Linked DNA regions of Homo sapiens: region 1 is linked to region 2. A link means that fine-mapping ties the variant in region 2 to the expression of a gene that starts in the linked region. Tissue or cell type: iPS cells. Region 2 holds a variant in brackets; the other region holds the start of a gene. All regions are shown on one strand. Distances are from middle to middle.

Region 1 (4,126 bases), 78 kb before region 2:
AGGTAAGGAGCAGGTAATAGCTCAGTTTGTGTGTGTGTGTGTATGTCCAAGGTCACTGTAAATAGTTTACCCCAGCTGGAACCAGCCTTTCTCCCTCCCAGAGATACCACACTATTTTTAGCTTAGATTGGATAACTCTTTATATACAACTCTTTGCCAAGGTCCCAGCTGCTTCATGTTTGCTTACTTTGATATTTTATTAACGCCTATTTAGCATTTCAATAAACTCCAGAATGTTTCCAGGTTACTTTTTGTAGTATTACGAAAAACACACTGATCATTTAGGCACTGTATTAGGCTGCATTCACTCAACATTTCCTGAATGCTTAAATACCAGGTCCTTGGGATACAACAGCGAACATAACAAGCAAAAATTTCTGCCCTCATGCAGCATACATTCCAGTGACTACATATGATAAAAATCCAAAATAATAGAGGCCACACTGGTCTGGATCCTCAAGTGATCCGCCTGCCTCGGCCTCCTAGTGTGCTGGGATTACAGGTGTGAACCACCGCGCCCGGCCTGCAAAAGTCTTTTAACTGGCCTCCCCATCTCCAAACTCTATCCTCCATATTAGTGTTGCAGGACTTTTTAAAATAAAACCTTGGTCATTTAATTTCTCACATTAGAAAACTTCCACTGTTTTTCACTGTTTACAGTAGAAATCCAATTCTCTTAGTATGGTATATAAGACTCTTCATGATCTAGCCCCAGTAAAACACTCTACAGTCTCCCCACCCAATATTTTTTTCACCGTATCCCTTCCATCTGGCCAGGCTGAGTCCTGGCAGCCACGACCCCCTATGGATCATGCTGGTTTAAATCTCCTGGGTTGCTCATGTTATTCCTGCTCCTACAAAGATCTCCATCTTCTTGTCTACCTAAAGAAAACCTACTCATCTGTGTGCAATCACCATAAAGACTTATCTCTCTTCTGCAGCCTTTCCTGCAATTTCCATACCTCTGGCACGGACAATCACCTTTTAAAAATACCCCATATAAATTTATCATAGCCTCTACAGTATTTTGATTACACTTAACTAATTACATGACTTCTCTTTTAGTCTTCTTCTCTAATCTCTTGAGGCCATGGACCATATCCCATTATTTTGAATCCCAAATGCCTAGTACTGTTCTTGGTATATGGTTAAGATGATCATACGACTTGGTTTGTGCCTGTTGACCTGGCTTAATAATTACACCCTCTTTACTCTCAAAAGTATCTTGGTTTGGCAGATAAATTATATTTGGTCATTCTCCACATAGTATATGCCTGGCAATAAATGAATGAATGAGCACCAGCATCTGAGCACTTATTACCATACAATATATACATGTATAGTAATACTTTTTAAAAAAGTTGTATATGATGATGTGCTGCTTTTTTGCTTAGCTTCATTAGAACTGGCCAGCTCCTTTTTCTCACTTGCCAAGCATGGGGAGTTGGTTTGGAGTTGGTGTTTCATCTTTTCCAGTTACAGTGTGAAAGTAGCCCACCAGCCCACGCTCTTATTCCTAAAGACCGCAGTGACTCCACGGACTTAAGTTCTCATTGCTTCCAGTTTCCTTGGGCAACGCAGCACGCAATTTTGGACGCGCTGCGTGGTTTCAGAGTCGGCTGTAACTTTTCTCACTTTATAATCATCAGGAAAAGTTCCTGATGCCAGTCTTCCAAACGCTCAATGAAATAAAAACCAGATAGCACCGCAGAGGAGGCTGAGATGCAACGACAAAAGCTGTCGTAATTATTAATAATACCTAACCCTGGATCACTCCCCTGATAGATCTGTATCTTTGCAGCAGGCGCAATTCAGTTTGGATTCACCCAAAACAAAAATGGTCTCCGTCGGAGTCAACGCCCTTTCCTGTGCGGACCAATCAGAATCTCAAACACAGGGCACGGGGCCCACACTTCCGTCCGGTCTGCCTGGTCTCTCTAACCGCGCCAGTGTGCCTCCGACTCGGAACGGCTTCCGCGGCCGGGGCAGCGAGGGCCGGGGGCGGCGGGCGGGATGAGTGCGGTGTGCGGTGGAGCGGCGCGGATGCTGCGGACGCCGGGACGCCACGGCTACGCCGCCGAGTTCTCCCCGTACCTGCCGGGCCGCCTGGCCTGCGCCACCGCGCAGCACTACGGCATCGCGGGTGAGGCGGCGCCGCGCAGCTGGGGCCGGGGGGCGGAGGCGGAGGCGGGGGCCAGCCGGGCTCCAGTTCCTCGCGCTCGAGGGAAAGCCCCTCTGAGCGTAGACGGTTCCGCGGGTCCACGCCAGGGGGCAGAAGAGGCGCTGGTCGGCGCTTCTCCTTTCTTTGCCGAGTGCGAGGAGTTGGTCTGAAGCAGGAGTCGATCTTCCAGTTGTGTGCAAGTGCATATACGTGTAGCCTAGTAGCCCGTGTCCTTGTTCCTTGAGACCGCGCTGCCTCCGCCACGTGTCACACGCCCAGGCACACGTCCCCGTAGGGAGAGCCGGGGGAGCCTGCGCGGTCCCTTGGATCGGTCCGCTCGGCACAGCAGTACGGGGAAGACGGTCTGAGCCAGAACCGACCCAGGGCTCGCGAGTTGGCCCACAATTCCCAGTCTGCATTCGAGCACTGAGCTGCGACCTGCGGGCTGGCCTTCCTAAGGACGATGCTCCTGAATGGACGCCTGGAGTCCCACGGGTGACACCATGAAATATATCAAGTTCAGTTCTTACCTGTAGTTGTCTAACGAGGAATGCACACATTCGCAAGTAGGTGTTACAGACTCCAGTTAATTGTCTCCCGTCGCGCGCATTGGCTCAGCCTGTGGTTAAAGCTGCTCAGGAGGCTGAGGCGGGAGGATCGCTTGAGCCCGGGATGTTGAGGCTACAATGAGCTGAGATCACATCACTCTGCCCCAGCCCAGTGAGCTGAGATCACATCACTCCACTCCAGCCTGGGTGACAGACTGAGACCCCGTCTTAAAAAGAAAAAAGGCCAAGCGCCGTGCGGTGGCTCACGTCTGTAATCCCAGCACTTTGGGAGGCCGAGGTGGGCGGATCACTTGAGTTCGGGAGTTCCAGACCAGCCTGACCAACATGGAGAAACCCCATCTCTACTGAAAATACAAAATTAGCCGGGCGTGGTGGCGCATGCCTGTAATCCCAGCTACTCGGGAGGCTGAGGTAAGAGAATAGTTTGAACCCAGGAGGCAGAGGTTGCGGTGAGCCGAGATCGTGCCATTGCACTCCAGCCTGGGCAAGAAGAGCAAAACTCCGTCTCAAAAAAAAGAGTCCATCTAGTCCGTGGACTAGATGAAAAGGCGTAGGTTCATTCTCGCTTTTGCCTTAATTCATGTCCTAGCTATTATACGCACTGAAGCGAGATGCAAAAACTCATTTCATAATGTCAGTGGTCTATTGTATTTTTTTGTTTTGTCCTACAGCAGAAAAAAATGTTACTTCTAAAACTCAGAGAAATACTTGATTTATTTTCATTATTAGCTCTTAGTGCTTGCACATTCAGATTTACATGGCCCACCAGTTAGACTGAAGACTCATGAGTCTATAATGGTAGTAGTTTTCTTTTTTTCTTTTTTCTTTTTCTCTTTAGAGACAGGGTCTCACCCTGTTGCCTAGGTTGAGTAGAGTGGTGCAATCACAGCTCACCGTAGCCTCCACCTCCTGGGCTCATATGATCCTCCTGTCTCAACCTCACCAGTAGCTGGGACCACAGGCATGTACCATCACACCTGGCTAATTTTTGATTTTTTATTTTTGTAGAGACAGGGTATCACTATGTTGCCCAGGCTGGTCCGGAACTGGGTGCAAGCGATCTTCCTGCCTTGGCCTCCCAAAGTGCTGGGATTACAGGCGTGAGCCACTGTGACTGGCCTGTAATGCTACTTAAAATCTTATGCAAAAACTCTTTAAAGGGAATTGGTATTTAAAAAAAAAAATTCAGTCATGTTTAAATAGAAGAGATTTTCCCCCTTGGTCTCTATAAAAAGTAAACATAACTTTTAAAATACAATGGCCCTTTGGTAAAATAATCTTTGACAGGTAACATATTAATACTGTTTTCAGCACTTTATTACCACCAGTTATGTAGTAAATCCCACCAAGTATCTCCGCATTCATATTTTGTTTTAAAATCCTGTGTGAGATGTGT
Region 2 (4,264 bases):
AAATTTAAATAAATATGTAAGTGTTTTTTTTTTCTTTTCTTTTTTTTTTTTTTTTTTGAGACAGAGTTTCACACTGTCACCCAGGCTGGAGTGCAGTGGTGCAATCTTGGCTCACTGCAACCTCCACCTCCCAGGTTCACACAATTCTCCCACCTCAGCCTCCTAAGTATCTGGGATTACAGGCATGCAACACCACACCCAATTAATTTTTTTTTTTTTTGACAGAGTTTTTGCTCTGTTGCCCAGGCTGGAGTGCAGTGGCGCAATCTTGGCTCACTGCAACCTTCGCCTCCCGGATTCAAGTGATTCTCCTGCCTCAGCCTCCTGAGTAGCTGGGATTACAGGCACATGCCACCATGCCTGGCTTATTTTTTGTATTTTTAGTAGAGATGGGGTTTCGCCATGTTGACTAGGCTGGTCTCAAACTGCTAACCTCAAGTGATCCACCTGCTTTGGCCTCCCAAAGTGCTGGGATTACAGACATGAACCACCGTGCCTGGCCTAATCTTTATATTTTTAGTAGAGATGGGGTTTCACCATGTTAGCCAGGCTGGTCTCGAACTCCTGACCTCAAGTGATCCACCCTCCTCGGCCTCCCAAAGTGCTGGGATTACAGGCATGAGCTCTCAGCCTATGAGTTTTTCATTTTAGGAATTAAAGATGTAATTCTGAGTTTAAACGATTCTCATTTGGTATTAGAATGTTCCCATTAACATTAGAAATAATCATTTAAAATGACTTAATAGGATATAAGAGAAAAAACTGAAATAGTGATGAGTGAAATGGCATTTTTTCAGCATAAATATAATGTGTTTCAAATGAACTAGTTCCTTTTCTGATACATTTATTATAGATGGATTTTAATAAAATAATTGTACCTGTTTTCTATTTTAGTCTTAAAAAGTTACAGTGTACATACTGAAATATGGCACCCCAAACAAAGGATCCTAAGTAAATATTCATTCAATCCTCATCCTTATATATTTCTATTACCTGTCCTCTGTGAGCCCAGACTAGAACCTGTGGCAGCAGCTGCAGCGCCTCCATTTCCTCAGCTATGGCGCTTCCTCGCCCAGGTCTGAAGAATACCAGATGTTTTCTAAATCCTCCACACATAGTAGGCCTACCTTATTAAAAGCAACTTTGTGATGAGAGGACTTAATCAGAGGACATACATCCCTAAGTAATAGATTTTATTCAAATTAAGATGGTGATCTCAACCAGTATTTTAAACACAAACATTTGAGTTGTGTATATTATTAATTTATATATTTTTCAAAGGATAATTTGTATTATTTTAATTATTTTTATGTACAGAAAACTCAACCGTGTACATTTAATCCAGTTTAGTGGCAGGTTCTTTAGCCTTTGCCTTTTCCAGCTTGGCAGTGTGAGCCACAGACTTGGGACCAAGGACATTGCCCCCCCAGTGACAGCAGATCTCATCGTGTCTGTCATTGTAATTGGTCCTGATAGCTTCCACCATCTTAGCCAAAGCCCTTTTGTCTTCCGAGTTAATCTGTGTGAAGGTGATGGTGGTGTGGGTCATCCTGTGAACCAGTCTTGCCTTTCCCTTGACAGCGCAGTCAGGGACCCCCATTTTATGAGACAGGGCAGGCAGGAAGACAACCAGCTTGATGGGATCCACGTCATGTGCAGTCACCGCCAGCTGAGCCTTCTTCTTCTCCACCAAGGTGGTGACGGTGTTAACCCCAGCTTGAAGGACAGGTGGTCTCTTAGTGGGGACATCCCCTTTGCCAACAGCTTTCTTCTCAGCCTGGGCCAAGTCTCTGCCTCTTCTCTTGCTTTGTCTCTGGTCTGTATTATGGGCCAGCTTATGTAGTTGAGTAGCTGTTTGGTGGTCCCAGGGCCTGGGTGAACTGGTTCATCACAGGAGGCACTTTTAGGCTCTTGTAGAGGATAACTCTTTGCTGCTGCAGCCTGACATAGTGGGGCCATTTCACAAAGTGGGTGAGGTCCCTTTTGGGCTGGATGTCCTGTCCAGTGCCAGAATTCTTAGGCCTTTACTCAACAGGGGATTCACCACTTTCTTGGCCTGTTGCTTCAAGATAGCAGGGGCTGGGGCCCCGTCTTGCCCTTGGTCTTCTTTCGGCATCTTGGGCAGCTATAGGAGAGAGATAATTTGTATATTTACAAGTCACATCAAACTCTTTTCTAGGGGAGATATGAATCAAGTTCTACATGTA[T/A]CTCCATGTTTTTCCCTCTCACTTTTGTCAGTTATCTATTACTGTGTAATGAACAACTTCCAGGACTTAGTGGCGTAAAACAACAATTTTATTTGCTCACAATTCTGTGAGTCAGCAATTTGGACCAGACACACCCTAGCAGTTCTTCTTTTGGTCTTTCCTGTGGCCACCCATGTGGTTCCAGCCATCTGGTGGCTTAACTAGGGCCGGGTGGTCCTATTAGGCCTCGTTCAATGTGTCTGGTGGATAGTGCTGGTTGTCTTCCAGGCCGTGTGTCTCTAGGTATGCCCAGGTCTCTGCACTTAACAGTTGTGTGTTTACAAGAGGGCAAGAGCAAAAGCTGCAAGTCATCTTGAGAATTGGACTTGGAAGCCACACAGCATTCCTTCTGTTGCAAAGCAAGTTGCAAGGCCAGCCCAGATTCAAAGAGTGGGAAATAGACTGTACCGTTTGATGGGAGGACCTGTGAAGAATTCATAGTCACTTAAAATCTGCCACACTAACCTGTGTTGGTATAGTAGGTGGTTTAAGTTTTATTTTTGTTTGTTTGTTTTGAGATGGAATGTTGCTCTTGTTGCCCAGGCTGGAGTGCAATGGCGTGATCTCGGCTCACTGCAGCCTCCGTCTTCTGGGTTCAAGCAATTCTCCTGCCTCAGCCTCCTGAGTAGCTGGGATTACAGGCATGTGCCACCACGCCCAGCTAATTTTGTATTTTTAGTAGAGATGGGGTTTCTCTATGTTGGCCAGGCTGGTCGCAAACTCCCGACCTCAGGTGATCCGCCCACCTCAGCCTCCCAAAGTGCTGAGATTACAGGCGTGAGCCACTGCGCCCAGCCAAGTTATTTTTAACATACTATATTTATCCTTTAGTCTCATAATGTGTCAGATTTACAGATTGTAAGTTAATTTAATTTTACTCTTTGATCATTTTTTATTCCCTTAGAAAGTATCTTTCTCTCACCTCTTAGTGTCTTTCCATCTGCTTTCATATACCTATTGTCTTTTGTGATCTTAGCAGCTGTAGGACCTTGCTGATGTTACTTTAAGGCTCTGTGTTTTTATATATTCTCAGTCTTAAAAGAGATTTATCTGAGTTCTTCTGTGTATAATTCTTTTTCTTTTTAGCTTCTCCTTTCTTAGAGATCTGAGAAATGAGGTCAAGGGCATTCATATATTACACCACCTTTCTTCTTAACAGAATGTAAGATCTTGTCTTTAAAAGTTTAAAACTTGACAAATAAATGTCTGGGGTCATTCTTTAAGGATAATTGCTGAGAAATGCTCTATGCCCTCTCTTGTTAACCAGGCTGAAGGCATCGTTTTCTTTGAAAATTTTTTTTTTCTGATCATGATTTGTACAGTTCTGACATTTTATCTTTTCTTTCTTATCCTTCTTATTTCTAAATTAGATACTCTTTTTCTTTTTGTAGACTTGTGATTCTAGACCTATAATACACCTATTTATATAACTGGAATTTCTATATTAGTTTAGAATTCCTGACTTTGTGTTCTGCAGTATCAATTCTGCTCTTCCAAATGCTCAGTGATGTTTAGTTTAGTATTTATAAGCTGGATACAAGTTTACATATCTTTATACATTCTTTTGGGGGCATAGTTATTTATTATTTTAATCTCTTTTAAAGTAAACGCTACCACTTTCAGATGTCGCTGCTGTATGTTTAATAAGCTTTAATGTTTTCCTCATGACAAAATTTTGGAAATTACATTTAGAAGAAAGAAAAAAGATTACCTCTAGTTTCCCCACTTGAGAAAGAATCTCTTATACCATATTATTATGTTTCTTTTAAAAATCTCTGTTTTACCATATTATTATGTTTCTTAGATTTAATTGAAATGTAAATTTATATTTTAAAATGCACATATTTTTAAGTGTACAGCTCAATTAGTTATCCAGAAGTGACTACCCCTGTATAACCACTATCCACGTTGAGATACAGAACATCGCTTGCATTCCAGAAGCCTCTTCCCAAATCTGAACCCCTCCTTCCCAGTGGTAGCCACCCATCCAGTCTCTGTCTGTGTGTGTATTTTTCAAA

The links. PIP is the estimated chance that this variant, and not a neighbour inherited with it, causes the effect.
Region 1: it holds the start of PEX7, and the variant in region 2 is fine-mapped to the expression of PEX7 in iPS cells (iPSCORE, PIP 0.95).

What each region holds. Positions count from the first base shown.
Region 1 is chr6:136,820,653-136,824,778 of GRCh38, forward strand. PEX7 (peroxisomal biogenesis factor 7) reads left to right here and starts at 1,940. Exons shown (of 10, transcript NM_000288.4): 1 at 1,940-2,143. The coding sequence starts at 2,014. RefSeq lists enhancers at 1,511-1,660, 1,544-2,276, 2,277-3,009, 2,391-2,550 and a silencer at 1,841-2,220.
Region 2 is chr6:136,899,042-136,903,305 of GRCh38, forward strand. All of the region lies in intron 9 of PEX7 (peroxisomal biogenesis factor 7), which reads left to right. It also overlaps the pseudogene RPL7AP37. Among named protein-coding and RNA genes, the nearest start is that of SLC35D3, 21 kb to the right of the region's middle. The variant T/A (reference allele first, on the strand shown) is at 2,208.